Linked DNA regions of Homo sapiens: region 1 is linked to region 2. Evidence: fine-mapped expression QTL. Tissue or cell type: monocytes. Region 2 holds a variant in brackets; the other region holds the start of a gene. All regions are shown on one strand. Distances are from middle to middle.

Evidence for each region. PIP is the estimated chance that this variant, and not a neighbour inherited with it, causes the effect.
Region 1: P4HA2 starts here. The variant in region 2 is the best candidate, but not a certain one, in a credible set for the expression of P4HA2 in monocytes (Kim-Hellmuth 2017, PIP 0.64).

Annotation. Positions count from the first base shown.
Region 1 is chr5:132,220,734-132,236,142 of GRCh38, reverse strand. It overlaps P4HA2 (prolyl 4-hydroxylase subunit alpha 2), which reads left to right and starts at 8,290. Exons shown (of 15, transcript NM_001017974.2): 1 at 8,290-8,353. RefSeq lists silencers at 7,944-8,173, 8,314-8,573.
Region 2 is chr5:132,323,375-132,338,783 of GRCh38, reverse strand. It overlaps SLC22A4 (solute carrier family 22 member 4), which reads right to left. Exons shown (of 10, transcript NM_003059.3): 5 at 11,381-11,507; 6 at 6,934-7,028; 7 at 3,852-4,066; 8 at 2,784-2,966. MIR3936HG (MIR3936 host gene) reads left to right here. Exons shown (of 8, transcript NR_110997.1): 6 at 3,858-3,999; 7 at 6,474-6,595. Among named protein-coding and RNA genes, the nearest start is that of MIR3936, 35 kb to the left of the region's middle. The variant C/TGTGC (reference allele first, on the strand shown) is at 6,054.

The DNA of each region.
Region 1 (15,409 bases), 100 kb after region 2:
TCACTCTCTGTTCTTGTACTTTCTGGGGGCTGCCACTAATTTCCTTTAGCAAGGGCTGCTCTAGGGTAACAGGGCTGAGGGGGCTTGGATGACAAGTAGGACCTCATCCCTAAAAGGGAGCTCAGAATGGGGGGCAGAGCATTCAACAAATATTTACAGAATAAATGAATGAGCAAAGGAACATAGCCCTTCCTACTTTACGTCACCAATTCTTAACTATCCACTTCTCTCTCTATTCATTGGCAGTTCCCAGTTCAGGTCACCATCAGCTGTCACCCCGCCTCAGCCAAGCTCTGCTCCTCCTTCTCCCCCACTCACCCACAGTAGAAAGGGTGTTTTTCCCAAATCCCAAATCTTATCCTGCTTCTCCCCTGCCTTTGCTCTGGGGTGTCTGCTCCTTGTCTTCAGCCTCACATCCAAATCCTTTTTTGTGGTCCATGAGGCCTCAGGTGATCTGTCCCTGGGATCTCTGCAGCTTTACCTCTTATTACTCCCCTACTGTCTGCTCCACCATTGTTCCCCAATCAAGAGCTTCCAGGGTTTGGCCTTGGAGGCTTGTGACAATAAACTGGGGAGATGTATTAGTGTGCTAAGGCTGCCATAACAAAATATCACAGCCTGAGTGGCTTAAACGATAGAAATTCATTTTCTCGTAGTTCTGGAGGCCAGAAGTCCAAGATTGAGGTGTCATCAGGGCGGGTACCTGATGAGGCCTGTCTTCCTGGCTTGTAGATGGTCACCTTCTTGCTATGTCCTCACATGGCCTCATCTTTGTGCAAATGTGGAGAGATACAACTCTCTTGTCTCTCCTCTTCTTATAAGGACACCAGTCGTATTCAAGTAAGGCTTCACCTCTATGATCTCACTTAACATTTATTAGCTTTATTAAACTTTTTATAGGACTAATCTCTACTGGCTTCCTGACATTTTAACAAGGCCTGAAAAAAACATTAAAAACACTCAACTTTCAGCCTTTTAGATAGTAGCTACATCAGATGCCCAATAGCTATCCTTAACCCTCACCTTATCACCTATCCCTAATCCCCACCCAGCCCCAATATAGGGTCAGGACTGGGGAAGGAAGGACGAGTGGCTGCTGGACTGTAATAATAATTCTAAAAGTGTGCTTTACAGTATATACATCAAAATATCAGATTTCAAGCACCATGCCTAGCTAACTCCTGCCCTCTGGACATTTGCACTAGTCCAGAGCCTCTCGCCCAGGATGGAGGTGAAGTGAGGAGGAAAGTTGTAGTGTAAACTCACTCTTTACACCATGGGGGGCCTGCCCTGGACTTGCTGTGTAATTGCAGTTCCTGAAGGTCTTGGCATGCCTGTAATGACAACTCAGCCTGATTGCTGACTCTGCTTGTCTTGGGTTGCAGGGGTCCATGGGGGAGGCAAATGGTAGGAGAGTTGTAGCCTGCTTTGGTTTTTGCACCCACCAGATGGGTTCAGGGATTAGGGGGGCACTCTCTAGGGACACACTTGGTCCTGCCCAGCCTGTCCCCACAGGCTTCTGGGGATTCTGCCAGATTATCTTTCCCTTTTCCAGGGTCAACCACCAGGCTATAAGACCAGACTACTGGATAGGCCCTATTTCAGAAGCAGTAGGGCTACTACTAGGTAGCCCCACTCAAGCCACAAGTCTTGCTGTCTGTGTTTGGCCTTGAGTCAAAGCGCCAGCCAACTGAGACACACTCGGTCTTTCCTCAGTCTCTAAGGGGAGAAACCTAGGGTGGGTTGAGCTCCAGTGGACAGCTGCATGCGGAATGTACCGAAGAATACAGATGTGTATCCACATATACAATGCCCTCTGTGTGGCATTGGTTGAACCTGAGGGCCTTGCTCTGGGAAATTCCATGGAAGGCCAGATAGTCGTAAACCCTGACCACACCTCCAGCTGCTGCAGTGGTTCCAGGGCCTGCAAGAGTCATCAGCATTCAGGGAGACTTCAGTGCCAAGCAGTGGAGCTTGCCCCACTCCCCTTCCCCAAAACAGGGATCACAGGTGAGTAGGAGTGGAGGAGGCTGGGGCAGGGCAGGCTGAGTAGGCCCCTGTTTAGAGTTAAGGGCTATGCCACATCCACCCTCCTATTCATCCAATTTCCTGTCCGCCCAGCACAGATGTTTTTACTATCCCTTCTGGGGAAACACCAGGTTCTTCCTTCGGGGTGGGGATGGCAGGCAGACAAGTCCAGACTGCTTCAAGGAGCCATTGGCCAGGGATATTGCCTAGGGACAGCATGGAGGTAGAGCCTCATTTGGCAATGCCCTGGCCATGCTGGGGTGAAAGGTCATAGGCCATGCCTGATCTTGAGCCTAGGAAGGGTCTCTAAGACTGGGTCTAGGTAGGCAGTACCTCCTACTAGTAGCCTTTCCCAGCTGGAAAGGCTTGGGCTTTTCCCTCCCTAGACAAAGTTGCTGGGCGGGCCTCTGCTTATCTACTAGTTTTTATACTAGACAGAGCCCCTTTGATATGTGTGGTCCCTGAATCCCCCGCCTTGACCTCAACTGGTGATCAGCAAATGTTTGTTGAGTGAACACATAAATGAACACCATAGAGCTGTTCCAGAAGGGAGGTATGGCCTTGTTCATACAATGGATTTGGGGAGAAGGGATGTGAATCTCTATAACATGCTGTGATGTGTGGCTGTTAAAGATGGTTGTGGATTCATTAAGTGACACACACTGGGTGTACTCAATGAGGTCTGCTAGAGGCCACAATAGTGGGAATGTCCACTCATTCATTCATGTATTTTTGTTCACCAATTCCTCTCTAGGCTCTGGGCGCCAGACCCTATGCTAGAGCTGGAGACACAGTGATGAACAGGTTAGAGGCAGTCCCCAGGAGGGCCAAATGGTAAATGAAGTAGACATTGAATGAGGTCAGGTAGCATGTGTGAAACTCATCCATGAGGAGCTTTGGGGCCTATGGCAGGATCTGGCTCAGGCTAGACCCAGAAAGCCTTTTGAAAGAAACCACCTTTTGGGAAGAGAATGTTCTAGGCAGGAGGAATAACACATTCAAAGGCCAGGGAACTGAAAAGTGCCTGGAGTGGCTGCAGCATCAAGTTTGAGGCTGTGCATAAGAAGAGAGACCATCAGGGCTGGATAAAAGGGATTGGCAGCATTGGCAAGATTTGTGTCTACCCTTGGGTCCATGGAATACCTTTGAGAGGTTCTATACGGAAATAACATGATGGGAATCACATGGTTACAATGTCACTCTGCCCTGTGTAATGGAGTAAGGATAGAGGGAGCGGAGTAGAAAAGTGGGCTAAGATGGATTGTCCAAGTGAGAGATGGTGGTGTCCTGAATTTGGTCTGCGACAGCAGGGTTGGGAAGAAGTAAGTGAACTGAGAGAGATCCACCAGGTAAGATCTCCAGGGTGGGCATGCAGTGGGAAAGAAAAGGGAAGTGACTGGGAGATGGTGATATTTGCTGAGATGTAGGAAATGCTGGGGCAGAAGCAGTTTGGGTGGTGTGGGCTGTGGTATGGGGGAGATGTTTCATCCTGGCTGAACCTGCAGCTGGAGATGCCCCAAAAGCAGTGGCAGGGGGGTCCCCATACGGGACTACCCCAAACCATCCTGAAATGGTTGGGATTCCAAAGAAAGTAGCACTAAATGCCAGGGTGATCAGTCCAAAGCATTTATTAGGGAAATTTCTCGGTCTCTGAGGGGGCTGCAGTACATCCTGTAGGCAGACAGCGAGACAGGGATGTTCTATCTAGGTATGCCTGCTGCAAGGGGGGTCTGGGTATGGAATTTATATGAGATTTTAAGGAATTTGGCTCAGGGTCGGGGCTAGTTTCTTTCAGTGTTTCGGGCGACCATCTAAACACCTTTATCAGTGCCTGGGAATGTTTAAGGCCCCAGCTTGGGCTCAAGCCTACAGGAAAAAACCTTCGGCTGTCTGGGTCATAGAGTGGTCAAGGCATTTGGTATTTGTCAGGAGAGAGAAAAAAGTGAGGGAACCTGGGGGACCCTACATGAGACAATGAGTTCACTTATCAAGTGGTCATAAAGAAAAGGCTGTGACGATGTGGGTCTGGAGTGGACCCAGGCTGGAGATTCAAAACTGAGTGATAGATTTACATGGGTCCAGAAGCCTTTGAGGGCATGGAGGAATGTCAAATGTAGTGGATTAAATGGTGCCCCCCAACCCCACCAAATTGCATTCATGTCCTACTACCTGGATCCTGTGAATGTGACCTTATTTGGAAAAATGGACCTTACAGATATTATTAAGTTACAGGTTATTAAGGGAGCTGTTGCAGTGGTTCCAGGGCCTGCAAGAGTCATCAGCATTCAGGGAGGCTTCAGTGCCAAACCTCCCTGGATTACCTGGGTAGACCTCCCAATCTGCCCTGGATTACCTGGGTAGACGCTACAGCCAATGACAGTTATTTTTATAAGAAACAGAAGGGCAGAAGATGCAGACACCGAGGAGAAGTGCAGGTGAAGATGGGGCAGAGATTCGTGTGATACAGCCACAAGCCAAGGAACTCCTAAGCCACCAGGAGCTGGAAGAGGCAAGGAGGGGTTCGCCCCTAGAGCCTTCAGAGGGAGCACACCCCGGTAACATTTTGATTTTGGACTTCTGGCCTCCAGAACTGTGAGAGAATAAAATTCTGTTGACTTAAGGCACCTAGTTCGTGGTAATTTGTTGTGGCAACCCCAGGAAATGAATAGATCAGGAGCCCAGATGGAGTCTGAGGGCCTTATGTTAAGGGCTGAGTGGTGAAAGTGAGGCTACAAAGGCAGAGGTCAGAAATGGTATCTTCTGGGTGGAGGCAGGTAGAGGAAAAGGAATATAAAAACAAATGAATGGCCACTTCCTGCAAGGCAGGAAGACCAAGGAGACATGATCCTCAGAAGTCCTGCCCCTTCTCAAGGCTGCAGATTTTTTAGGAGGATATCTGACCAATGCTGTGGTCCTGAGCTGCCAGGACTCCAAGACCCTGCGGAGGTCTTACTCATGCCTTTGGAGACTAAATCTTACAGTGTGGAGCAAGGTATTGAGGAGATATCCGTCCATTCAAGGAGTTAGCAAATATTGAGCCCAGTTCGGTGGTGGGAAAATGGCAATGGACAAATGCATGCATGGTTTATGTACTCCCAGACCTCCCAGGCCAGTCGGGGAAGACGTTACCCAAGCGATCATTCAATTCTATCAACGGTGGCAAGTGTTACGAAGCACACGGGGACATGAGAAGCTGTTATGGGAGGTTTTGTGTGTGTGGTTTTTTTTTTTTTTTTTTTGAGACAGTCTTGCTCTTGTCACCCAGGCTGGAGTGCAATGGCACGATCTTGGCTTACGGCAACCTCTGCCTCCTGGGTTCAAGTGATTCTCCCACCTCAGCCTCCCTAGTAGCTGGGATTACAGACACCGCCATCATGCGTGGCTCACTGCAAGCTCTGCCTCCCGGGTTCATGCGATTCTCCTGCCTCAGCCTCCTGAATAGCTGGGACTACAGGCATGCGCCATCACACCCGGCTAATTTTTTGTATTTTTAGTAGAGACGGGGTTTCATCATGTTAGCCAGGATGGTCTTGATCTCCTGAACTCGTGATCCACCCGCCTCGGCCTCCCAAAATGCTGGGATTACAGGCGTGAGCCACCGTGCCTGGCCATGCCCAGCTAATTTTTGTATTGTTGTAGAGACGGGGTTTCACCATGTCGGCCATGCTGGTCTCGAACTCCTGACCTCAGGTGATCCGTCCGCCTCAGCCTTCCAAAGTGCTGGGATTACAGGCATGAGCCACCGTGCCTGGTCTGTTATGGGAGGTTTTGACCTACTCAGGGAAGTAAGGAAAATCTCTCTGCCTCTGAGGGAATCTGAAGGATTCTGAAGGTTTTAATCAGGGAGGGAAAAATTTTTTCTAGACAGAAGGAACAGCATGTATAAAGGTCTGGGGTGGGGAGGGGGAATGGCCAGTTAGAGAGACTGGAGGAAGTTCGATGTGGTTACAGAAGTGAGCAGAGGCCAAACCATGTGGAACCTTATAAACCACTTTTTGATGTTTCTCAAGATCAGGGCAATTTCCCAGCTGCAAGTAATGGGCTCAGATCTGCATTTTGAGATCATCATGGTTGTAGTGAAGGAGAGATGAGAGGGAACAAAAATGGAGGAGCAGCCAGTCAGGAAAGTGTTGCCATCACTCATGTGAAAAAGATGGAGAGAAGTGGGTGGATTAGAGGGAGATTTAGGGGTAAAATTGAACAGACTTGGGATATAGGTAAATAGGGTCTGGGGATGAGGGAGAGGGAGCTGCCAAGTATGACTCCCAGGCTTCTGGTTAGGTAACTGATGGGAAGTATCTCCTTCAGTACAGCAGTGAAGACAGGATGTGTGGAGGGGGAAGATGTAGGGGGAGAACAATAACTCTGTGTTGGACATGTTGCCATTGAGGTGCCTGTGGACACTCAAGTGGGGATGTACACTGAACAGTGAGTTACATGAATCTGGGGTTCAGCAGTAAGGATAAGGGTAAAGAGAGAAATTTGTGTCACCTGCGTGTAAAGAGAAGCGTGAAGTGGAAAGCCTAGACCTGAGTTTTGAGGAACCCCCAACCTTTACTAATAGGGAGAGGATGCTGAAGAAGCTTGAGCAGAGGTGGCCAGAAAGGATGAGGGGAAACCAAGGGAAATCAGTGTTCCAGAGGGGCTGTGGTCATCGCTGGGTGTCAGACACTGCTCAGGGCCCTGGCAGATGAGGTCTGAAGAACAGCCGTTGAAATTGGAGATTGGAGGCTACAGTTTATTGAGACCTGGTTTGGTGCTGTTAGGGAGCTAGAAGGCTGACTGCAGGGCCTGAAGAGTGGGAGAGACAGCTCCTTTAGGGCCTGAAGAGTGGGAGAGATGTGAGGATGGGGAGACAGCTCTTTCAAGAAATTCCGCTGCGGTTGAGAACAGAGACACTCAGTGGGGTCGAATGAGGGTTTTGTTCCCATAGTAGAGGCTTGAACACATTTACAGGCCAATGGGAAAGATCCAGTTGAGAGCGGGTAGTTGAGCCTTCAGGAGAGAAAAGGGATGTTCCATGGGGCAAACTCCTGAGAAGGGGGAGGAGATGGAAGGAAGCTTCTGTGGATGTAGCAGATGCAGGAGGGTTTGTGTAGTTTTAGCCGGGCTCGAGCCGGTGGCTGACGCAGGCAGGAACAATGGCTCACCCATGTTTTATGTGTATTTCCGTGTGCGTGCTCCTGCTTTCCCCAGGTCTGGGCCGCCTGCCTGGCCCGTGTGCCGTAGGGAATATCCACACTGGGCCTGGGCGGAGGCTGGGCATCTCCCGCTCTGGGCTTGCTCCCTGATGAGATTCTCAGACCGTGCTTCCCCTCATTCATGAGAGGAAGGTTCACAGAGCAGGCGTGGGAACCTGCCTGGCCGCCAGGGCCTCCTCCCGCTCAGGCTGAGGTTTGCTGCATCTCTGTCCTTATTCCCTTCCAGACTGGATTGGCTGAACCAGGTGTCCACTCTTTTTGGCCCATGGCATAAAGAAGGGTTTGGGCAACCCAGTGTGCCCCAGGTTGTTACCGCCCCCCCGCCTCCGCCCCCACCCAGCCTTTGATGGGCCCCCTTCTCATCAATCCATCACCCCTGCACATGCCACCAGGACTGCCTGGACCAGAGCCCGGGACTCTCTGAAACCCACTGAGAGCTCGGCCCTGGGAATGGGCCTCCCAATCTCGGTCTCCAGGGGGTGGGCCCCAGGTCCCTAGTCTTCCTCAGGGTCTTCTCCACTGTTCTGCCTCCTCTCCTGATACCCAGTTCCTAGCCGGGGTGACCCCAGCCTCCCGTAACAGCCTCCTTGTGGTGGTGCTGGGAAGAAGGGGCCCGTGTACCCGGCAGGGCCCCCCAGGCAATGGGCATGAGCGCAGGCAGGGAAATCCGTCAGCCTCCAGGGACGCTCTCCCTACAGCCCCGGCGAGGGGATCGGGTCGTGGCGACCTCTCCAGACGCCCAGGGGCTGGGCAGGAGGGCGGGCCAAGGCCCGCAGGTGGGGGCGCCAAAGCCAGGCGGGCGCGGAGTACGTGCGGTGGGCTGCGGGCGGCATGAAGGGCGCGGGCGGCCAGCTCCGGCTCCGGCTCCGGCTCCGGCTCCCGCGAGGCCGGGTAGCCTGGGCGTTCCCAGGGGTCGCAGAGGACGGCGAACCCCGGCGGAGCCACCGGAGCTGGGGACCAGGACGCAGGCAGGCGTGTGGAGCGTGAGGTGGGGACGTGGCGGCGGCTCAAGTGGGCGGAGCCCCGGCAGCGGCCCGAGGCGGAGTCGCCAAGGGAGGAGGCGCCGAGCTGACCGGGCGACGCCGCGGGAGGTTCTGGAAACGCCGGGAGCTGCGAGTGTCCAGGTGAGCGCCCCGCCCGCTCAGCCGCCAGATCAACCTTAGCGCTGGGGCGCGGGCTGGGGTCGCCAGGCGGTGCGTTCTGCCCGCGCGGGGCTGAGAGTTAGGGGCCGGGGCCGGATCCGGGGCCGGGGGTCGCGCCGCTAGCCGCCAGCAGCGCAGTCCGGGCCGCCACCCTGCACCCTCCGCCCTGTTTCTGCACCCGTCTGGGTTCTTGTGCCGCCGCCCGCAAGCCTTCCCGAGCTCAGGGTGGTGAGGTCAGCGGCGCCCTTCGTGCAGTTCCCTCGGCTGTCGGGCGGGGCTGGGAACTTGGCCGCTCTTCCCTGTCAGGCTCCCGGGAAGTGGCGGCCTGACCCCGGGCTGCCGGCTGTTGGGAGCGGGGGCGCGGCGTCCGCCTGGCCCTGAGGGGCCTCTTCATATTGGCTAAGCCCGTTCTGCACCCTCCCAAGGGCTGGGAGTCCTAGGTCTTGTCCGGGCAGGGTCCAGCTTGGAGCCCATTAGATGGGCCATTGGATCAGAAAGTCTTTTCTCCCCCAGACATCCTTGTGGAACCAGCGTTGTTTTTCCTTGGCAGCTGCGGAGACCCGTGATAATTCGTTAACTAATTCAACAAACGGGACCCTTCTGTGTGCCAGAAACCGCAAGCAGTTGCTAACCCAGTGGGACAGGCGGATTGGAAGAGCGGGAAGGTCCTGGCCCAGAGCAGTGTGGTGAGCGCTGTGCTGGAAGGGAATGCGGGCAGTGGGTACTTGGTAGAGCACTGACTGCCTCCGGCCAGAGGACTTCCCGGAGGAGGTGACCCATGAGCTGGAGTGGTCAGAGGAAGGCTGGCAAAAGGGCATCGTGGACAGAGGAACAGCCTATGTGAGTGGGAGCAGAGACCTTGGCCAATGCCATTCCTTATGGCCTTGTAGTGGAAGCAAGGTGATGGGGAAGGAACACTGTAGGGGATAGCTGTCCACGGACGCTGTCTACAAGACCCTGGAGTGAGATAACGTGCCTGGTACTGTGCCCTGCATGTGTAAGATGCCCAGTTGACCTTCGCAGCAGGAGCCTGGATCAGGGCACTTCCTGCCTCAGGTATTGCTGGACAGCCCAGGTGGGTCCCTGGCCTTTGTATTCTATTTGACTTTAAGATGGTGCAGGAGAATACAAAAAACTATCCGGGCATGGTGGCGCGCGCCTGTAGTCCCAGCTACTCGGGAGGCTAAGGCAGGAGAATCGCTTGAACCTGGGAGGCAGAGGTTGCAGTGAGCCAAGATCGTGCCACTGCACTCCAGCCTGGGAGACAGAGCGAGACTCCATCTTAAAAAAAAAATAAAAAAGAGAGATGGTGCAGGAGAGCATTGGGATCCCTCCCAAGACTGTGACTGTTGTCTTTTGCTGTAGAGTGACACCCGAGATTTGTGCTTCTTGATAATAGACTACCTGGGGCCTCACAGCCCCAGCCCTCTTGTAGGAAATCCTGTCCTAGGAGCAAGGGCTGGAGTCCGTTACGTTGTAGCTTGGGGCATTCTTAAATGTCCCAGACTTTGTGGAGATCCATTGTCCACCTAAGAATTTATAGGATGTTTTTGGGGTCTGCTGCTTGTTCTCAGCCTGTGTCTCATCTGACATTAGGTTCCATAATTTAGTCTCTGTTAAATGAACTAGGATTTCCTTTGGCTTGTACTTAAACTGCCCCTGAGGTGTCCAAGGTGCAGCCTCTCACTGTGGTTCTGGGCCTCAGCGCCCAGTCTCTCTGGTTGCTTCTCCCCACTCACAGAATGTTTGGTCTTTGAATTCTTTTCTTTTAGGGCCTCCTTGTTCTTACACAGCCGAGTGTCCACTGTGTGGCCCAGCCAATGAAGCCACGTAGCAAGGATGGAGTGAGTTGGCTGGGGGCCTCATCCCAAAGATGCTGTCATACTGGATCACCCTAGTTCTCTGAGAGCTCAGCAGGCAGACTTGGTGACAGCTTAGCTGAGGCATTGTCTGTGGCATGTGATAGGCCCTTGTATCCTGTCGAAAGCTCTGCATTGGGGTACTCTAGACAGTGCTTACTTAGTCACCGGTTTAGACTGGCCCCAGCTGATCTCAGTTCATCCCTTGAGTGCCTTCTGCCTGTTTGGCTTCTGACTGGAGCGTGCCTGGGGCTAGAATGAGGGACGAGAGAGAGGAGGTGGCCGAGGCACTATTCTTGCCTGTGGGTAGCTCGTACTCTGAGATTGCTGCTTCATATTGGCAGCTGGCCATGTGCCAGGGGAGGAGCCCGGCTGTGAGTGCTCATCAAAGGAAGAGACTACGTGGGTGCAGCTCTGAGGAATGAGTCGGTTGAGGGAATCTAGGGTCTCCTCATTTCCTAAGAAGGCCTCCCTTTTTCACTCTGCCCTCCCACATCCTTGGGAGGGTCTGAGACTGGAAGCAAGGCCTTGGCTGATGTGTGGCCACGCTGGCTGATAGTGTGCAGAGGGCTAGGAGGTGTGTCCCTGGCTCCTGGGGTCTGTCAAGAGTTTACTATTATGCAGATGGAAGTTGGCAGGAAAAGCTGTGATGCAAGTACATGCAAGCCCAGCAGAGTGCTGGAGTGAGAGTTAAACTTCGGGAAAGTTGCTCACATCTAGCAATTTGGACATTTGAAGTTCCTTAGGGTAAGACATCAGCCTGTCCTAGAGCAAAGAGGGCTGGAAGGTCCTGTGGTCTGTGGGCTTTGTGTTACGGACATGGAATGAGAGATAGAAAGACAGTTTTTTTTTTTTTTTTTTTTCCTCAGAGCAGAGGAGAATGAAAAGTCTGGATGATTTACTGGAGCCCTAGAAGAGAGTTCTTGTTCAGCTGGTGTCATTGCAGGGCAGAGGATTAAGTGTTTGGGTAGAGTGCTCTCCAGCTCAGATGGAATCTATCTGAGCCTGGTAACAGGCCAGCATCTGCTCTGGACCTTTCAGGAAGTGCTTGCTTAGAGTGTGGCCTGTTTTGTACCTGGCACTCTGAGGGCCAGGGTGTAGTGGAGATCCTCAGGCCTGGGTACTTGTAGGAGCCTGGAATGAGCAGGTCAGAGGCATATAAGTACATGAGTTCCTAGAGTATTGGTCCAATCCCCCGCCTTTTGCTAGAGAACATTGCTTGATGAGCTTTAGAGCCAGTGATTGACCAGTTCCAGGGTTATCCCCTGATGATCAATGTACTACATTATACCTGATTCCAGTCTCTCCTGAATTAAATGTTTCATTTCTTGTGGTGCTCCTGGAACATGGAGATCGCCCAATTTCTGCCTTGTTTGCATCTTCACTGTTCCCTAGTCTGGACCTTCTTTCTCACCCAGGAATCAGCTGACTTGGGCTGGGCAGCTGGCTGCCTCAGGTCCACTGATGTTTCTCTGGTGCCCTTGGTACTAATGATTGACATAAATTATGCCTAGTGCAGGGCTACCTGCCAACATCTGTCATCACATTCAGTCCTCCAACAGCCCTATGAGATATAGGTCCTAGTATTGTCTCTATTATATACATGGGGAAACTGAGGAATCCTATAACTTGTCCAAGGTCACAAAGCCGGGAAGTGGTATAGAATTGGGGTTTAACTCTTAGTATGTCTGACCCTAGGGCAGGTGTGCCTGTCCATTTGACTGTACTGCCTTGCCCTGAGCTGGACTGGCTGGTTATTTGTGAGTGCTGTCATGTCTAAGGTAGGAGTGACTGCCCATCTGAACTTAAGGGACCATGTTGCTGTTTTCTGGGTCCATGTTGCGTTCCTCCCTCTGGTGAGATCCAGCCAGGCGTGTCATGGACCTGCTTTATGAACCTTTGGTGTAACCCATGATAAAGTCCTTAACCTGGGCAGGCATGTTCTTCCTGGGCAAAGTGTGGCTTCCCTGTTTGGGAGTCCATTGCACTTTAAGGTAACAGATTATTGAGTAGGACTGGATAGCTGCAATATCTAGCAGAGTGTGTTTTGGGTTTGACTCTTGGTTCTGTCATTGATTTGCTGTCAGATGTCAGATATGTAGGAAACCTTCTCTCAGCCTCAGCTGTTTGTCATTTGTATCTATCTTATATCTGAAATGGAGGTAGTTATCTAGCTTAGAAGGTTTGGGTGAGAATTAGATAGTAGAAATGAAAGATTTTTGGAAACAAATAGTGCTTATCTCAGACTATGTTCCCAGGAAACAGCCTGAGACAGAGCTTAAGTACTTAATGCTTTATTGGAAGGTGTAATTGCAGGGCAGCCAGGGTGAGGGAAAACAAAAGTGAGGTGCAGGCCTGTGCGATGGCTCATGCCTATAATCCCAGCACTTTGGGAGGTCGAGATGGATGGATTGCCTGAGGTCAGGAGTTTAAGACCAGCTGGCCAATATGGTGAAACCCCATCTCTACTAAAAATACAAAAATTAGCTGGGCATGGTGGCACACACCTGTAGTCCAAGCTACTCAGGAGGCTGAGGCAGGAGAATCCCTTGAACCTGGGAAGTGGAGGTTGCATTGAGCCAATATTGTGCCACTGCACTCCAGCCTGGGCGACAGAGCGAGACTGTCTCAAAAAAACAAAAGAAAAAAGTGAGGTATAAAGGAGGATGGGAGGTGGTGTTTTAGCAAGCTGGCTACTCTGCACAGAGATGTACTTGGTTACCCTATGAGGGCCCTTTGGTAGCCACTGGGGAGGCCAGTCTGGTACTTCAACAGAGTCTGGAGATAGTGAGAGGAGCCAGAGATTCTGGCGTGGGCCTGGATAGTCTCCTCCACTGGGCTGAGGCAAAGTAAATACCCTGGGACCTGGGAGATGGGTGAGACCAAGAGGTTGCAAGGTGGGACGTAAGATGCATCCAATATAGTGGTATATGGATTTTATCCTCAAGTGTAGTTCCCTTTTGTGGGTTAGTCTCATCCAGACTGCCAAGTCTCTGCCAAGACTATGACTGAAAACCCAACTTGGCTTTTGCATGTCAGTTTTAACAGCCTTCTCTGCTACTTCATTGTCTAGTTACTGAAGCAAGACTTTGTGGTGGTGATGGTACCCAGGTGGGGAAGTGGAAGTCAACCACTATTCATGTACCAGACTGAGAAAGTATGTGGATAGATACAGATAAACATCTTGGCTTTATTAGGTTCTTCGTGAAGGAGAATATTTTTTCACATAAAGTAGTTGTTGAAGATACGAAACCTGGCATGGTGAGATGAGGCTAGAGAGGGCAGTAGGGCCTGGTCACACACTCAAAAGGACCCTTTGGGCTAAAGAGTTTGAACTTTATCTTGACGGCAGTAGAGAGCCAAAGGAGGGCTTTGATAAACCATGCTGGCTACTTTGTAGAGCAGAGGTGGGAGGAAGGCCAGATGACATGTGGAGAGGCCAGTGTAGTGGGGGCCAGGATGCCTGTAGGGGAAGTTAGGGGTGGCTCAGATCAGGGTGATGACTGAGGCTAAGGAGAGTAGGGTACCCCCCATACTTGCCTAGGGTGCCGTGGCAGCAGCTTATAGGCCTGAATGGACATCCATGTGCTTTGGTGGCAGGGTCTCCTGGAGCCTCTGGATCCTCTTAGGCTGAACACACAGGTCCTTTCAGCCCTGTTATCCTAGAGTTGGAGGCAGCGGGGAGCCGTGTCCAGTTAGGTTTTCCCCCTTCACAGAAGGCAGGCAGGTTCTTGTTCAGTGCCAAGCAAGACCAGTTTGTTCTCAGCAAGCTCATGTTCTGTCTCTAGGCTGTTAAATACATTGTTAAAACTCAGGCTGTTGCATTTGGGTTGCAGCTGGGAGCTTGGCAGAGATTCTGCCTGATGAGGTAAGGAGAGAAGCTAAGGACGCTGCTGGTTTGCAGCTGGAAACATCTTTTCATGGCCATTTGGCCAGATTGTAAATGTCTTTTCCAAAGTTCAGGTTTGGTGGGACCTCTGGTTGTATGTCTTGGAATTGCCCTGTGTTTAGAAACAGTGCCAGTCGCCTGATGGGTGAATCACTGTTGCTGGGATGTTGGCAGGTTTTGCAGGACTTTCCTGTGGGGGTCCAAACACTAGGGCTGGCAGGGCCCGTTTGGAGTCTGTTTGAGAAGGGCCTGCTTTGTTTTCTTTACATTTTAAGCATATGATAAAATAATTTTAAAAATTGCTATAGAATTTCTTGTAGAAAGATTAGAGAAACAAGCATAAAAATAAAAAGAAATTATTTCACCAAGATATAGCCAGATGTATGACTCTTTTCTTGCATCTCTCTATATACACATATACATTAATTTTTCCTTACAAAAATGGAATTATAGAGTGCATATTATTGGGGCCCACTTTTCTCACTTAACAGTATGCTTAGATCTCTTCATGTTGATATATAGTATTCATTTTTAATATACTCCATAAAAACTCATTGTATAGAAGAAATGTAAAATCTTCTATTGTTGTAGTTTCCTAATTTGAACAAGTCTGTGGTGAAGTATTTTTTGTTGTGTTCCTGGTATGGGACAGACATTGTTCTAAACTCTGGGGATGCAGCACAGATAAAACTCAGTATTGGTTTTCTGCTCAAGATGTCACTTTGTTTTTCATAAAAGTGGGTTTGACATTGTTCACCTCCAGACTTATTCCAGTTGGATTCTGAGGGTTTCTGGGAGGGCTTTTAGCAGCACTGGACACTTTGTAGGGGCACTCAGCAGGTACACATACTTTCACCTACTCTGTCTTAAGCAAGCTGTGGGCATAGTTATGAGATGGGTTGGAGGTTGGCCTTTCCCACATTGTGGGGCACAGTCCCTCTCGGATGCTGCCTCCTCCCAATCTGACTCTAATTAGAGGACTTTTTGTACAGAGCCTTTTGAGTTAAGGGGCCCAGGCTTGGGAGAAATGGGGTAGGGCTCCAGAGTACCCCTGCCAGAGATGTCAGTGTTGATGTGGTAGTCTGGGAGCTGCTGCTTGGAGGTGCCCAGCTCTCCAGGCTAGCAGAGTTAGTTATCCCCTTCTCCCACCAGAGCAAGACTTTGCAGGCTCTTGGTAGGTAAGTCATCTGTAATTACCTGTGATTCTTTGAGGCTCTGCCCAAACCCCATCTGTGATTCTTTGAGGCTCTGCCCAAACCCTATCTGTGATTCTTTGAGGCTCTGCCTCCA
Region 2 (15,409 bases):
TAACAGCAATGTTCAGGGAACAAGAGAGATAACCTTAAACTCTGACCGCTGGTGAGTCGGGCAGAACAGAGCCATATTTCTCTTCTTTCAAAAGTAAATGGGAGAAATATCGCTGAATTCTTTTTCTCAGCAAGGAACATCCCTGAGAAAGACAATTCGTCCCTGAGGGTAGGCCTCTAAAATGGCCACTTTGGGGGCAGCTGTCTTTTACGGTTGTAGCTGTAGGGATGAAATAAGCCCCAGTCTCCCGTAGCACTCCCAGGCTTGTTAGGATGAGGAAATTCCCACCTAATAAATTTTGGTCAGACCGGTTGTCTGCTCTCAAACCCTGTTTCCTGATAAGATGTTATCAATGACAATGCGTGCCCAAAACTTCATTAGCAATTTTAATTTTGCCCCGGTCCTGTGGTCCTGTGATCTCACCCTGCCTCCATTTGCCTTGTGATATTCTATTACCTTGTGAAGCACGTGATCTCTGTGACCTACACCCTATTCGTACACTCCCTCCCCTTTTGAAATCACTAATAAAAACTTGCTGGTTTTATGGCTCAGGGGGCATCATGGAACCTGCCAATATGTGATGTCTCCCCCGGACACCTAGCTTTAAAATTTCTCTCTTTTGTACTCTGTCCCTTTATTTCTCAGACCAGCTGGCACTTAGGGAAAATAGAAAAGAACCTATGTGAATTATCAGGGCTGAATTTTGCCCGATATACACCATTAAAGAATGGGCAAAGAAGGCCAGGCACAGTGGCTCATGTCTGTTATCCCAGCACTTTGGGAGGCCAAGGCAGGTGGATCACCTGAGGTCAGGGGTTTGAGACCAGCCTGACCAATATGATGAAACCCCATCTCTACTAAAAATACAAAAAAAAAAAAAATTAGCCGGACATGGTGGCATGCGCCTGTAGTCCCAGCAACTCAGGAGGTTGAGGCAGGAGAATTGATTGAACCCAGGCGGCGGAGGTTGCAGTGAGCTGAGATTGCGCCACTGTACTCCAGCCTGGGTGACAGAGTGAGACTCCATCTCCAAAAAAAAAAAAAGGGGCAAAGAACATGAGCAGTCAGTTCACTGAAAAATAAATAAAATGGCCAAAAAATACACAAAAACATGCTCAACCTCATTCATAATTAATAAATAGGAATGAAAGTAACAATGATATCCATTTTTCACATAACAGATAACCAATGATTAAAAAATTAGGTAGGCCAGGTGCTGTGGCTCAAACCTGTAATCCCAGCACTTTGGGAGGTTGAGGCGGGTGGATCACTTGAGCCCAGGAGTTCGAAACCAGCCTGGGCAAACTGGCAAAATCCCGTCTCTACCAGAAAAAAAAAAAAATTAGCTGGGCTTGACGGTGTGCATGCCTGTAGTTCCAGCTAGTTGGGAGTCTGAGGTGGGAGGATCTCTTGAGCCTGGGGGATTGAGGCTGCAGTGAGCTGGGAATCTAGGATCGCACCACTACACTCCAGAGTGAGACCCTGTCTCAGAAAAAAAAAAAAAAAAAAAAAAAGGTAATCTTTATTGTTGGTGAGATTATTGAAAACCACTCTTACCTATTAATAATTAGATTATAATTGGCACAATATGTAGAGTTCAATTTGGGAATATCTATGAAATTTTTTAATGGCTCTCTTTGCTCCAGGAATTTTACTTCTATGAATCTACCTGTAAATCCAAATATACGTAAGTAAATTCACAAAGGGTGTAGGAGCATAGGAGAATGTTCGTTGTAATGTTATTTGTAATAGCAAAAACCTGGAAATGACCTACATGTCCTCCATTCATTGGAGCCTGGTTAAATAAATTATGTGTTTCAGTATAAAAGTAAGATTTTCATTGTGAAAACTTCAAATGGCATGGAATGTACTGGAAAAAAGTACAAGTTCACCTCCCCTCTCCCAGGAGGATCCCTAGAAAACCAACATGAACTGTTTGGTGAGTAGCCCTACAGACATTTTGTTTTGCACAACATTATGTACACACACACATATATATATAATTTTTTAACGGCACTCTTTGCTCCAGGAATTTTACTTCTGTGAATCTATCTGTAGATTATACTTACATATACTTATTTTAAAATGTACTTATATACATTTTTAAAAGGAGGTACCTATTTAAAAAGAAGGTAAAGGAGCAATATGTAACTATTTGGAAGGATATTCTGATACAATGTTAAGTTTAAAAAGTTTTAACATATATAATGTTATTTGTGTGTTTATTCTTTTTATTTTTTATTATTTTTATTTATTTTTGAGACAGAGTTTTGCTCTTGTTGCCCAGGTTGGAGTGCAGTGGTGCAATCTTGACTCACTGCAGCCTCTGCCTCCTGGGTTCAAGCAATTCTCCTACCTCAGCCTCCAGAGTAGCCGGGATTACAGGCACCTGCCAGCACACCTGGCTAATTTTTTTATTTTTAGTAGAGACAGGGTTTCACCATGCTGGCCAGGCTGGTCTTGAACTCCTGGCCTCAGGTGATCCACCTACCTTGGCCTCCCAAAGTGCTGGGATTACATGCATGAGCCACCACGCCTGAGTTGCTTGTGTGTTTAAAAAATTATATACATACCTGTGTACATGATGTTGTGCAAAACAAAATGTCTGTAGCGCTACTCACCAGTTTGTGATTGGCTTTCTAGAGCTCCTCCTGGGAGAGGAGAGGTGAACTTGTACTTTTTTCCAGTACATTCTATGCTATTTGACATTTTCACAATGAAAATCTTACTTTTACATTGAAAACTAATTTAAAGGAAGAACAAATGCACAAGATGCAGCTCACCGAGGTAAACAAAGTAGGGGGCAATGATGCTGCCCACTCTGGAGGCCGTGGATGTGACCCCCACCGCCATGTTCCTGACCAGGGTTGGGTAGAGCTCAGCAGTGAAGACATACAGCATGGAGAAAGCAGAGGTGATCCCAAATTTTCCCAGCATGACCAGACCAATGGATAAGAAGTAATAATCTGGAAAAGAGACCCGGTATAAACAATGGTGCTTTTAGAAGTGATACTTTCTTATATCAGTTATTTTTATTGTCCTTTTTGCTTCAGTGGGAGTACTTTTATTAACATAAATATATTCCCAAAATAGCATTTTCTCTTCAAATGTCCTAATATTTGGGCATGGACAAAGATGGAGCTCATGTGAGGGGTGGCTTTGTACTTTGTTCTACTGTTATTCTAGGTCATTAATGCATTCAGTGACCTTTGTCCACTTGTCTTTTGTTTGTTAAAACAGTTTCATGGGTAAGCTATTAGCATGTTAATATAGTTAAGTTTTATCTTCAAAGAGGAGGACCAATCCTTTCTATCCTCTTTCTTATTATTAAGAAATATGTATTTCTATTACTATCAATAATTTAGTGACATTTTAATATTATGAGAACGTCAGACACAAGGGGAAAAGGGAAGCATATATCCTTTTGTGTGCTATTTAACTACTTAAAGATTCAGACCAGAAAACCACTGAATGTATCCTGGAACCGACATGTCCTACTCACTGTAATACTTGAATATACACCCAGGGAAAATGTTTGAGAGTAGCCAGAAATTAGGAATCATGACTATGAGTTAAAGGGAGATGTTAGGTGAGTCTTTCTGTGAAGGGGATGACTGGGAGAGTTACTCTTCCTCTTTGGTGCTTTCTGCTTCTCTGAGACTGTCTCTTCTGTTTGGGGTAGTTGTTTTGAACACAGGAAACAACATACGTAGTGAGCAATCACCTGTCTAATTGACTTATGAATGGCTTATGATGTAAAGGCTGAATAAACATGGAGCAGTGACTCAGAAGCAGCCTAGTCAATATGTGGGTCTTTTCTGGTAAGCTGTTCATCTTGGTTAACTTCTTACCCACAGGTACCAGTTGAATGAAGAGAAGCACACCTCCTCCCCAGAACAGTACTGCAGCTATGATATAACGCCTGGGCAGGGTTCGCAATAGCAGCCAGGCTGTAATGTAAGCTGGAATTTCAATCAAGGCAGAGAGGAAACAGTTCAGGTAGGCATCTCCATGTAAATTAGGAGCATCCAGAGACAGAGCAAAGTAACCCACTGAGGTCAGCATCCTGAAAGAAGAAGGTAAAAATGACAAAGGGATGGTGTGAATCGCTCTAAAATTTTATGATGGTCAAGAAATTCTCTATATCTTGCTGTCTTATAAGTAGCCACTACCCTCATTGGCTACTTAAATTTGAATAAATTAAAATTAAATAAGATTACAAATTCAGTTCCTTAGTTACACTAGCCACACTTCAAGTGCTCAATAGCCACGTGTAGCTAGTGGCTACTATATTGAACGACATAGATATGAAACATTTCCGTCACTGCAGAAAGTTCTATTGGACAGTGCTAGTCTAGATATACCAATATTCAACAATAACTTTTCTCAGCTAGTTGATTTCAAGTTTTCCTATTTCCTGAATAGTTTGTACCTCCTCAATCTCTTAGAGCTATTATATGAAGAAAAAATATTAGTCACATCAGTGAACATAAAATCCAGATTTCATTCTTTAACAAAAAAGAGATACAAGGGTCATACTGTGGGATTCACTTAGAATAAATTCTGATTCTCTTTAGGGAAAAGAGTGAATGTCCCCTAATCCTTCAAAGTATCACAGACTGCAGTCTGTATATTCTGTCATTATAGTTAACTTCCATGTAGAAGCTTCTCTGTGGGCCATGCGTGGTGGCTCATGCCTGAAATCCCAGCACTTTGGGAGACCGAGGCAGGCAAATCACCTGAGGTCAGGAGTTTGAGACCAGCCTGGCCAACATGGTGAAACCCCGTCTCTACTTAAAAGACAAAAATTAGCCAGGCATGGTGGTGGCATGTGCCTATAATCCCAGCTACTTGGGAGGCTGAGACAGGAGAATTGCTTGAACCCAGGAGGCGAAGGTTGCAGTGAGCTGAGATCGCACCATTGCACTCCAGGCTGGGTGACAGAGCGAAACTCTATCTCAAAAAAATAAAAACATAAATAAAAAAAAGAAGCTTCTCTGTGGAAAAATAACTATGTAACTGAGTACCCCCATTTTTCTAAGAGATAGTTTATTTTCTCTCTCTCTTCTTTTCTCTTTCCTCCTTTTCTGCACTTTCTACTTAGCTCTTTAGAAGTGCAATTATAGCCTTTTAACCTCCTCTTCACTGGACACTCCCTGCAGGGCAAATTCATCTAACTATGTGCTTAGAAGCTCCAGAGTGGAACTCTCACCGCCCAGATTTCCTCAAGCGATATCAGTCAATTTCCAACTCAAAGTATGCCTGCTAGAGTTTTTGGCCACCTATACAACCTGTTTCTGCCCATGAAGGCACCACCTCAACTGCCCAGTAGATAAGGCAGCAAGCTAGCCCTCTGATCCCTCACCTGCTCGCGTCCTCCCCTGCCTTTTAGAAGTGCCTGCTTTCCGCTTCAAAAAGAGGAGCGGTGGTACCCTTCAGGCAGGAAGCCGATACCTTTCTCCCTAAGCTAGCTTTGGAATAAAAAGTCACTTTCCTTACATCAGACTTTGCTCTTGTTAATTGGACGCTGCAAGCTGTGAGTGACTGAACCTGAGTTTTTGTTACAACTGCACTATGCAGACACCCCTGTGTAGAAATTTGCTTATTATTAACATGACTGAGAAGCAGAGGATATCTGAAAAATGACTTCAGGAACACTAGTGGATCTTTTTACACATACTAGACCCAAATTAGATAATACAAGGACTAATTCATAAACACAACAAATAAGTATGCTCAAGGGATCTTAGTGATTTTCCCATTTAGTAATAGGAGTAGTTTAGATAGAACTAGTGACTAATTTTTTATTAGCTTAGTAGCACCACTACCCAAGAACATTTGCATCAGGGATATAGGCTGAAATGTAAGAACTAAGAAGCCCATGTACCTAGGACACACTTGCTTAATTCAGACGCATAAGCTCTGTCATTGATCTCTTCTAATTGCCAAGTAGGATGGCCCTTAAAAATAAACTTAGATTAGCTGCAGCCTAAATCTACCAGTTCTGACGATCATCGTGTGTGTGTGTGTGTGTGTGTGTGTGTGTGTGTGTG[C/TGTGC]TGCCATCATAGAGTAGGAATTTTCTTTTTTCCTTTTTTCTTGGCAGATAAATTATTAAATCTAATCTATAAAGCCAATTCAGTATTTCTGCGCCTGAAAGCCACTTGTTAGTTTGCTATTGGCACGTGTAAAAAGCTGATCAAGGCTCCAATCCAGGCAATGGGGATCTAGGTTATTCTAGCCTCAGTGTTCAATTGCCAGGTCAGCTTCAGGAAGCAGGAGCTGAATTAGCATCTCTGCCTCAGGCAACACGGACATCATTAGTCTTAATCTCATAATTTTTGGTGGGGAGGGAACCATTACCCAGGGACATCAATGATCTCAATCCCATAACTTTAGGAGGGGGAAGGGAATGCTTTCCCTTTGGGTCCCAGTACTGCAGACTTAAATACTGTACCCTGTGACTTTTTTTTTTTTAGATGGAGTCTTGCTCTGCTGCCCAGGCTGGAGTACAGTAGTGCGATCAAGGCTCACTGGAACCTCCACCTCCTGGGTTCAAGTGATTCTCCTGCCTCAGCCTCCCAAGTAGCTGGGATTACAGGTATGTGCCACCATGCCCAGGTAATTTTTGTATTTTTAGTAGAGACGGGGTTTCACCATGTTGGCTAGATTCGTCTCGAACTCCTGACCTCAGGTGATCTGCCCACCTTGGCCTCCCAAAGTGCTGGAATTACAGGCGTAAGCCATTGCGCCCAGTGACATTTTTCAATATCTAGTCCCATGAACTGAATAGAGGCATTTCAAAATAATTTAGAATTTTATAATCTTAATTTTTCCTCAGGAAAACCCAGTCGTTGTCATAATGTTCCTCTGAGTTAAGAAAATCAGTTGCATACTTATGTGCTGGATATCTGCATTTCCAGGTCACTTATTACTTACCATAGCAGCAAAGACATAATGGTCATTATGGCAATATTCCGAGTCCTGAACAGGTCCAGAATGAAAGCTTTCTGCTGCTTCAGGGGATTTAGCTCCTGTAACCAAAATAATGCAAATAACCATGAGATTAAGAGGTAGTAAGGAAGTATCTTTGGCTATGATGCATGGGGAAAACTTATGCATGCAACTCTCACTTCACCTTGACTATGCTTAGAAGTCTGGTGATTGGAGGCAATAGGGCATCTACATATATGACACTTACTCTGACACTTTAAAATGTTTGTAGTCCATTTTACACAGAAGCCTTTTAAATATATAACACCCCCTTCCCTGTCTCGTTAGACAAAGCCTGTTGGCTAACATAGCCTTTCTCTGACTGACAGTCAGAGAATGGATGTCATTTACCACACTGATCTGTGATCCTCAGGACTGCCTATTGAAGGGTAGGGCCATGTAGTCCCTTCCTTGAGGCCACGTCTGCTTTTTACACTTCTCTGTTTATTTGTTTGTTTTTTTTAGATGGAGTCTAGCTCTGTGGCCCAGGCTGGAGTGCAGTGGTGTGATCTCAGCTCACTGCAACCTCCACCTCCCAGGTTCAAGCGATTCTCCTGCCTCTCAGCCTCCTGAGTAGCTGGGATTACAGGCGAGCACCACCGCATCTGGCTAATTTTTGCATTTTTTGTAGAGACTGGGTTTCACCATGTTGGCCAGGTTGGTCTCAAACTCCTGGCCTCAAGCAGTCTGCCCACTTTGGCCTCCCAAAGTGCTGGGATTACCCAGCCTTGCTTTTTACACTTCTCTTGTTGTAGTCATTTAGCATCAGAACAGACTTCAGTTTACTGGCGGGCCTTGGGCAAGTAACGATCCTCTCTGAACTTCAGCTTACTGCTATATAAAATGGGTATATTAATTGGGAGTTGAGAGATTAAATGAGATCATATATATATAGCTTAGCACAGTGCTTGAACCATGGTAAATGTCCAGTAAATTTAAACTATTATTATTATTACTGTATCATTGAGGAAAAGAGGCTAGCCATCAGCGGTCAGTGACAAATCCTTACTGCTATCAATGGGTTTATACTCTTTTACTTTTATTTATATTTATTTTCTTGTTTGTTTTTTGAGAGGGAGTTTCACTCTTGTTGCCCAGGCTGGAGTACAGTGGCGCGATCTCAGCTCACTGCAACCTCCGCCTCCCAGGTTCAAGCAATTCCCCTGCCTCAGCCTCCTGAGTAGCTGGGATTACAGGCACCTGCCACCACACCTGGCTAATTTTTGTATTTTTAGTAGAGATGGGGTTTCGCCATATTGGCCAGGCTGGTCTCAAACTCCTGACTTCAGGTGATCCATCCACCTCAGCTTCCCAAAGTGCTGGGATTACAGGTGTGAGCCACTGCGCCCGGCCTATTCTTTTGCTTTTAATTTGCTGATATTAACTTGCTATGAGTTATGAATCAAGGTAACCAAGCTGATTAGAATTGAAACTAACATAAAAGTTATTAGGCTCTGAGGTGGGGAATCTCTCAGGGATGAAGTACCAGGACTTTGTGACTTTGTGGCCCTACAGTGCATGCGCAGTAAGAGACTGATGGAGGAGTTTTTATTATGAAGAAGTGGGAGTGCCAGGCCTGCCTTCACAGCAGGTCCTCTCCAAATGTGAGTGTCCTTTTTTCTAGGAATGATCAGACACTTACACAGCTCACAGCCACATTGCCTTTTCTCTCTTGCACTATTTGGATTGTAGAGCCCCAGAACATGCCCCCAGCAGAATAACCCTGGTATTATAACAAAGCAAAGCCACTGCATAAACTAGTGGGAACCAGACATCTTCTTGGAGGGTTCCAGGGTGGTGCACACAGACAGGACCTGTGGACCAGTCCTGTGCTAATACTTGGTGGTTCCACGGGGCCCTTCTTAAATGCAGGTTGCCAGGTTCCTCCCTGGGCTTGCCTACTTCGACTCTTTTAAACAGAGGCCTGAGAATCTGTATTCTTAAAGCACTTGGGTGATTGTGATGAGCAGCCAGGATTGGAAACCTCAGAACAAGAATATGCTTGTATCCAGTGGTTGTCCCTGGCCTGGGTGGAGCCACCAAAATGTCTTTGGATCAGGTACCAGAAGCAGGTTGAAGGTGCTTCTTCTGAAGCCAAGGATGCTTGAGATTGCTTTCTAAGACAATACTCTACTCTATATCTTTTCCTATCCAAGTTAATGCTACTGCCTGTAACATGAAGTGAAAAATCACAGTTGTTAAGAGCATGTACTTTGGTGCCTGGGAGAACTAGGTCACAAATCCCAGTTTAACATCTGTGTGATCCTGGGCAAGTTACTTAACTTCGCTGTGCCTTAGTTTCTTTTTTTGAAAAAAAAAAAAAGCATGAGCAATGAGCAGAACACAGTGCCTGGCATTTGGTAGGCTCTTCAATATCATTCTAAATAGGGTGCATTTGCTGGCACAGGGCTCTGCAGATCCTCCTAAAGAGGATCCTACGGGAGGTGAGCAGGGGAGATGACCAGGCCTCAGGAAAGCGCAAGCCCCCTTTCCCTTAATGGGTTTGTCCAGTTCAGGCTAGATGTGCATCATGGCAGGAAGAAAGAAGGCACTGTCAGGCTGAGAATGATGGCTCACATCTGTAATCCTAGCATTATGGGAGGCTGAGGTAGGAGGATTGCTTGAGCCCAGGAGTTTGAGACCAGCCTGGGCAACATAGTGAAACCCTGTCTCTACAAAAAAAAATACAAAATGTTAGCTGGGTTTGGTGGCAAGTGCCTGTAGTCCCAGCTTGGGAGGTTGAGGTGGGAGGATTGCTTGAGCCCAGAAGGTCGAGGTCGAGGCTACATTGAGCTGTAATTGTACCACTGCACTCTAGCCTGAGCAAAACAGTGAGACTCAAAATTTTTTTAAAGTGTGTGTGTGTATATATATATATATATATATATATATACACATACACACATATATATACACATTTATATATGCGTGTGTGTGTGTGTGTGTGTGTGTGTGTGTATATATATATATATAAAGGCACTGCCAGAACCATGTGTTTTAACACTGAACTATATTCTTATTTGTCCATAACTATATATCTCATATCTATTTTATGATTGCTGTCATCCACATAGGTAGATCCCTACAACTAGACTCTAAGTTTCACAGATAGGAATCAGGCCACCTAGCTGATAAATACCGATAAACACCCCAGCACAGCCCTGAAGGGCAGAAGTGTTAGACACTCCCAATGTTGTTGTTGTTGTTGTTGTTGTTGTTTTATCCATTTAAATTGACTGAGACTTGAAATGGACTTCTTGATTTGAAGGGCAAAGGATTAAGGGATGTTTTGTCCTGGCAGCCCTCTGAGAGCTTGAGTTCATGGCCAGTCTAAGCCTCTAGCCATAGCCAGAGTATCTGCTTCTGGAAAAGGTCCTGAAGGCCAGGGACTGGGGAAGCCGTGGGGGTGAGCAGTGGCATGCCCACCGTCCTCTACAGAGTTCTGCTTTCTGTACTACATGCTTTGGTGCAGGGCATGTATAATGTTACTGAAGCCACCACAGTCTTTTTTAGGTGTCCTGAGCAGACTCCTACCTATCTCCTAGACAGGAATGCCCTGCCCCATCCTCTCCACTCATTTAAGTGAGTCCTGCTGTCCTCCCTGGCTTGGACCTGCCTCCAGCCATGGGCCACCCTGCTATCTTTCTCTGTATTGCTGGCACACAGTGTCTCTACTTGGATACTTACCATTTCCTCCCTTATGCCATTCTTTATCTTTTTATCTAATCCTCTTGCCAATCTTAGTTACATTCTATGTTCCTTTAGAATTTGGGCTGTGTCTTTTCTTATTTCCTCTAGGAGCCAGCACAGGGCATGGCACACTGCATATCCTCACGAACTGTCAGGAGGTGTGGCTGCTTCCACAGAATATCAGCTTTTCCTTGTGGCCACCAGCTTTCAAGGGTGAATCCTCAAGCCTGTGCTTTCAGGCCTTAAGGTTCTAGACATGACACAGAGTGAGACTAAAGACATGCATAGCTTCCTCAGCAGTCTGTGGTAAGATTCAGGGTACAGTGGAGAACCCAGGGTGGACTAGCCCTGAAACATATTTTTCCACTTAATCTGGACATTTAAAAATCATCAGTACATAGCTGTGTCAGTGGTTTGGAGCAATGCCAATAGAAAGTTGATGATAAACTTGCAAAATAAAGCAAACTAATATTTAATGAACGCTTGCTATTTGCTAAGCAGTTTACATATATTATTGCATTTAATTCTTATAAACAGCCCTTTAAGGTGGATTTTATCTTAGAATTTAATCATGATTGTGTTCCTAAGGCCTAGTGCAATGCCTGGTACATAGTGGGCACTTAACAAATATTGAATTAAGTTAAATTCCATAAAATCAAGAATGCATAGCTGATCTCAAGAGGAAACATCTGCAAATGCTTACCTCCACAGAATCAAATATCACTGCTGGTACAGCTATGTTGTTCATTTTTGCAGCTTTTTGGATGATATCTTCAGCCTCTCTAAATCTTCTCTGGGATATCAGCCATCGGGGAGATTCAGGAATGAACCTATAATTTATTTTTAATATTTAATAATTTTTCACAACAGCAGGGCTGGATACTATTAAATCTGAGTTTCCCCCAAATAGTTTTAATTTTGTAAAATTCTAGTTTGTCTTTTTAAAGGGAGTCCACATAAGATTTCTATTGGAGCATAGGAATAAATAAAACCACCTTCAAGTTTCAAACTTCTGATCAAATTATAAGACCGATCATCAGTTGTGCTTGAGACCAGGACCAGACCATAAGGGGTGACATTAACTATGGGCATGTTTGAGCCAGGGCTCTGGAGAAGTTCATCCAAAACTTATAGGTAGTGTGGCTCATAAAAGAAACATAGCTACTAGACTATAAGTTCCCCTAGAGAAGAGACTGTCTTTGCAGTGGGTCCATCCTAAGGAGAATTGCTGGTGTCCCAGCTGGTGATGTTCACAGTTTATTGGGAAAAGGATGGCCAGGGCACCTGTGTTCTTGATCGTTTCCTTTAGTCAAAAGAGAAAGTGAGGGCACTGACACCCGCCTGTGTGGGGCCCCCATGGCTTTCAACAGATTCCCAGATCAGCGAGTGCCCAAACCAGCTTTTGGGAGATGAGCCCCAATGTTGTCTTTTTGTTAATGTCTAAAAAAGCTTATTGTTTTAAATTACATAGTCTATTCCCATTTATAGCTGATGCTCAAACACAGTTGCAAATAATAGGGCTTCTATTCTTTCTAAATTTTTATTTCTCAAAATCTTTTAGCCATTCTCCTGTCAGCTCTCATTTTCCTTACCTATTGTCAGTACAGATGGTCCCTAACTTATGATGGTTCGACTTATGATTTTTCTACTATAGGAGAAAAATGATATGCATTGAGTAGAAACCTTACTTTGAGTGCTCATACATACAGCCATTCTGTTGTTCACTTTCAGTACAGTATTTAATAAATTACATGAAATATTCAACACTTAATTATAAAATAGGTTTTGTGTTAGAAAATTTTGCCCAATTGTAGGCTAATGTAAGTGTTCTGAGCATGTTTAAGGTAGGTCAGGCTGAGCTATGATATTTGGTAGGGATGCAGGGCAGGCAAGCTCCAGAGTGGGGTTTGGCCCATGAGGGTTCTTGGCTTTGCCCAGGAAAGAATTCAAGGGCAAACTGGAGGTGGAAGAAAACAGCTTTATTGAAGAGGCAATGTTACAGCTCCGTGACTGCTCCTGCAGAGCAGGGCTGCCCCACAGGCAGAGAGTAGCAGCTCAGGACAGTTTTGCACTCATATTTATAACTACTTTTAATTACATGTAGATGAAAGGTCAGTTTATGCAGAAATTTCTAGGGAAAGGGTAGTAATTTTTGGGTCATTGGGTCATTGCCATGGAAAGGGGCAATAAAGCCTGAGTGTTGTCATGGCAACAGTAAACTGACATGGCACACGGGTGGGCGTGTCTTATGGAAAGCGTCTTCTGCCCTGGCTGTGTTTTAGCTGGTCCTCAATTTGGTCCAGTGTCCAAGCCCTGCCTCTGGAGTCGTGTCTGGCCTCCTACCTCAGTAGGTTAGGTGTATTGACCTAGAATATTCTCAATTTACAATGGGCTTATTGGGATGTAACCCCATTATAAGTCAAAGAGCATCTGTACTTACTTAGCCTAGACAACAAATTATAAGTAGCAGACACAGAGTCCTGTGTAGTTAATTGGCCCCAAACCCACACTAGGAATTAGCTCAGAGCAAAACAAATGACCAACCAGCAGGTCCCCTCTCCAGCTTAATAGCACATGAGTTGAAAAATGAGCCTAGTTTGCATTTTTCAGAATATGCCTTTAGTGGGTCCCTATAGGAACTACAATAATGTTAGGTCACTGACTCTCAGTAATTAGAACTGTGCTGTCCGATAGAAACTTCTGAAATGTTCTGTATCTGTACTAAGACAGCACCCACTAACCACATGTAGCTATTGAGCTAGTGTGATTGAAGAAATGAAAATTCAATTTTATTTACTTTTAATTAATTTTAACTTAAATAGCTGCATGTGGCTGGTGGCTACTATATTAGTGCAGAATTAGAGATCTTACTACACAGCCACGATATACCTCATGGATGGGGCCAGTATCTTTCTCCAACCAGATTATGCTTAGAAATATCCTACCTTTTTTTCTACAGACCACTGGCCTCAGATTCTTAATGTTTAATCAGCTAGAAATTGCATAGCTTTCCTCACATTGCATCTATGGCCTGCTTCCCTACCCCATCCCCACCGCCTATACACATACTCCATTCACACCTGTGGCCACTTACTGCCAAGCCTTTTAAAGGAAACTTGGGACATAAAAAGTCCCCCAAACCACCAGCAGTGCCTCTATGTAGGTTTACCTCCCATTTCTAGCCCACTGTACTCAGGGCCACTGGTATCTCTAGTTTTGAATTGCTTTGATTTTTTTTTGGTGCACATAATCTCAAATCTAGCTGATCATTTCAAAAGTCAATGGAGTGCCAAATGAGGTAGCACACTATAATCTCTCTGTAGATTGAATTCAGACTAAACAGCAGTGAGGTGTTGCTGGAGAGCTTGTCTCATACTGAGCAGGCGGCAGGGTCCATGTCAGCTCTAAGCATCCCTCCATACCCCAACCACTAGACTGATGAGCATCCCTTTGGGAAGACCCACCTGCAAGGATGGGATGTTCAGAAGAAAGCTATTTTCTTTTATAGGAAAATGGTAAGACCACTGGTAAATGTTCAGGGGGAGCACTCAGCTTGTCAGTGCTGGTCCCAGGCTGGCCTCTGTCTGGGGCAAGTCCTGTCCCTGGTACAGTATGCCCACAGCCAGGAGCATTCATGGACCAGCTCCTGGGGAATAGAAGAAAAAGCTCTCCTTAGGGCACAGTGAGCAGGCTCCCTGTGGGATGGACCTTCTCTGCTGGAAACTCTGGAGGCTGACTCTGGAGGGCTAATGGATCAGAGCTGTTCGTTCCTCGCTGTGACATATGGTCCCGAGGCAAAGATCCCATCCCTACTAATCTCTGTACAGCCCATCAGAGGCTTTATATTGTTATTCTCTCTCTCTCTTTCTCTCTGATAGAATCATACCTTAATCAGATTGATTATAACTTTTTTTTTGAGACAGCATCTCATTCTATCTGGGCTGGAGTGCAGTGGCATGATCATATAGCGCACTGTAATCTTGAACTCCCAGGCTCAAGGGACCCTCCCACCTCTGCCTCCTAAGTAGCTGGGACTACAGGCGCTCACCACTGCACCCAGCTAATTTTTTATTTTTAGTACAGACAGGGTTTTGCCATGTTGCCCAGGCTGGTTTTGAACTGCTGGGCTAAAGTGATCCTCCCACCTTGGCCTCCCAAAGTGCTGGGATTACAGGTGTGAATCACCATACCTGGCTAATTATAACATTTTGAAAGTACTGGTCTCTTAGGTCAAAATGACAACTAGAGCCAGAGAACATAGTTTATTAAAACCATTCAGCTGAAGAGGCAGAAAAGAACCTTTGAATAATCTTGTCATGTGTCTTGAGAGAACCTTAGTCACTAACATCTTTTCCAATAAATTCAGCTAGCAAGGGAGTTGTGGAGAGAAGGACAGATGATGATGATGATAATTACTCTCATTCAGAAAATTGCTCTGCTCTTGTAAGTCTGGGATGCTTTCCTTGGAGGCACAGCTATGTAGATAATGGCCAGCCCTTATTCACTGCTCCTCAGGCCGGGTTTCCCGGTCCTCAGACAGGGTTCCAGAGGAATGTTGCAAATCAGAATAATACATAACCTTTAACAAACTGTCAACTCCCCCTGCACACTTCATGCCAATAATTTACACTAGTAAATCACAGCACTCTTACAGGTCATGAGAATACAGGGGCTTAGAGTGAGCCCACCTGACCTGCGCTATCTCGTCAGACAGGTGGCCTGCCTGTCAACC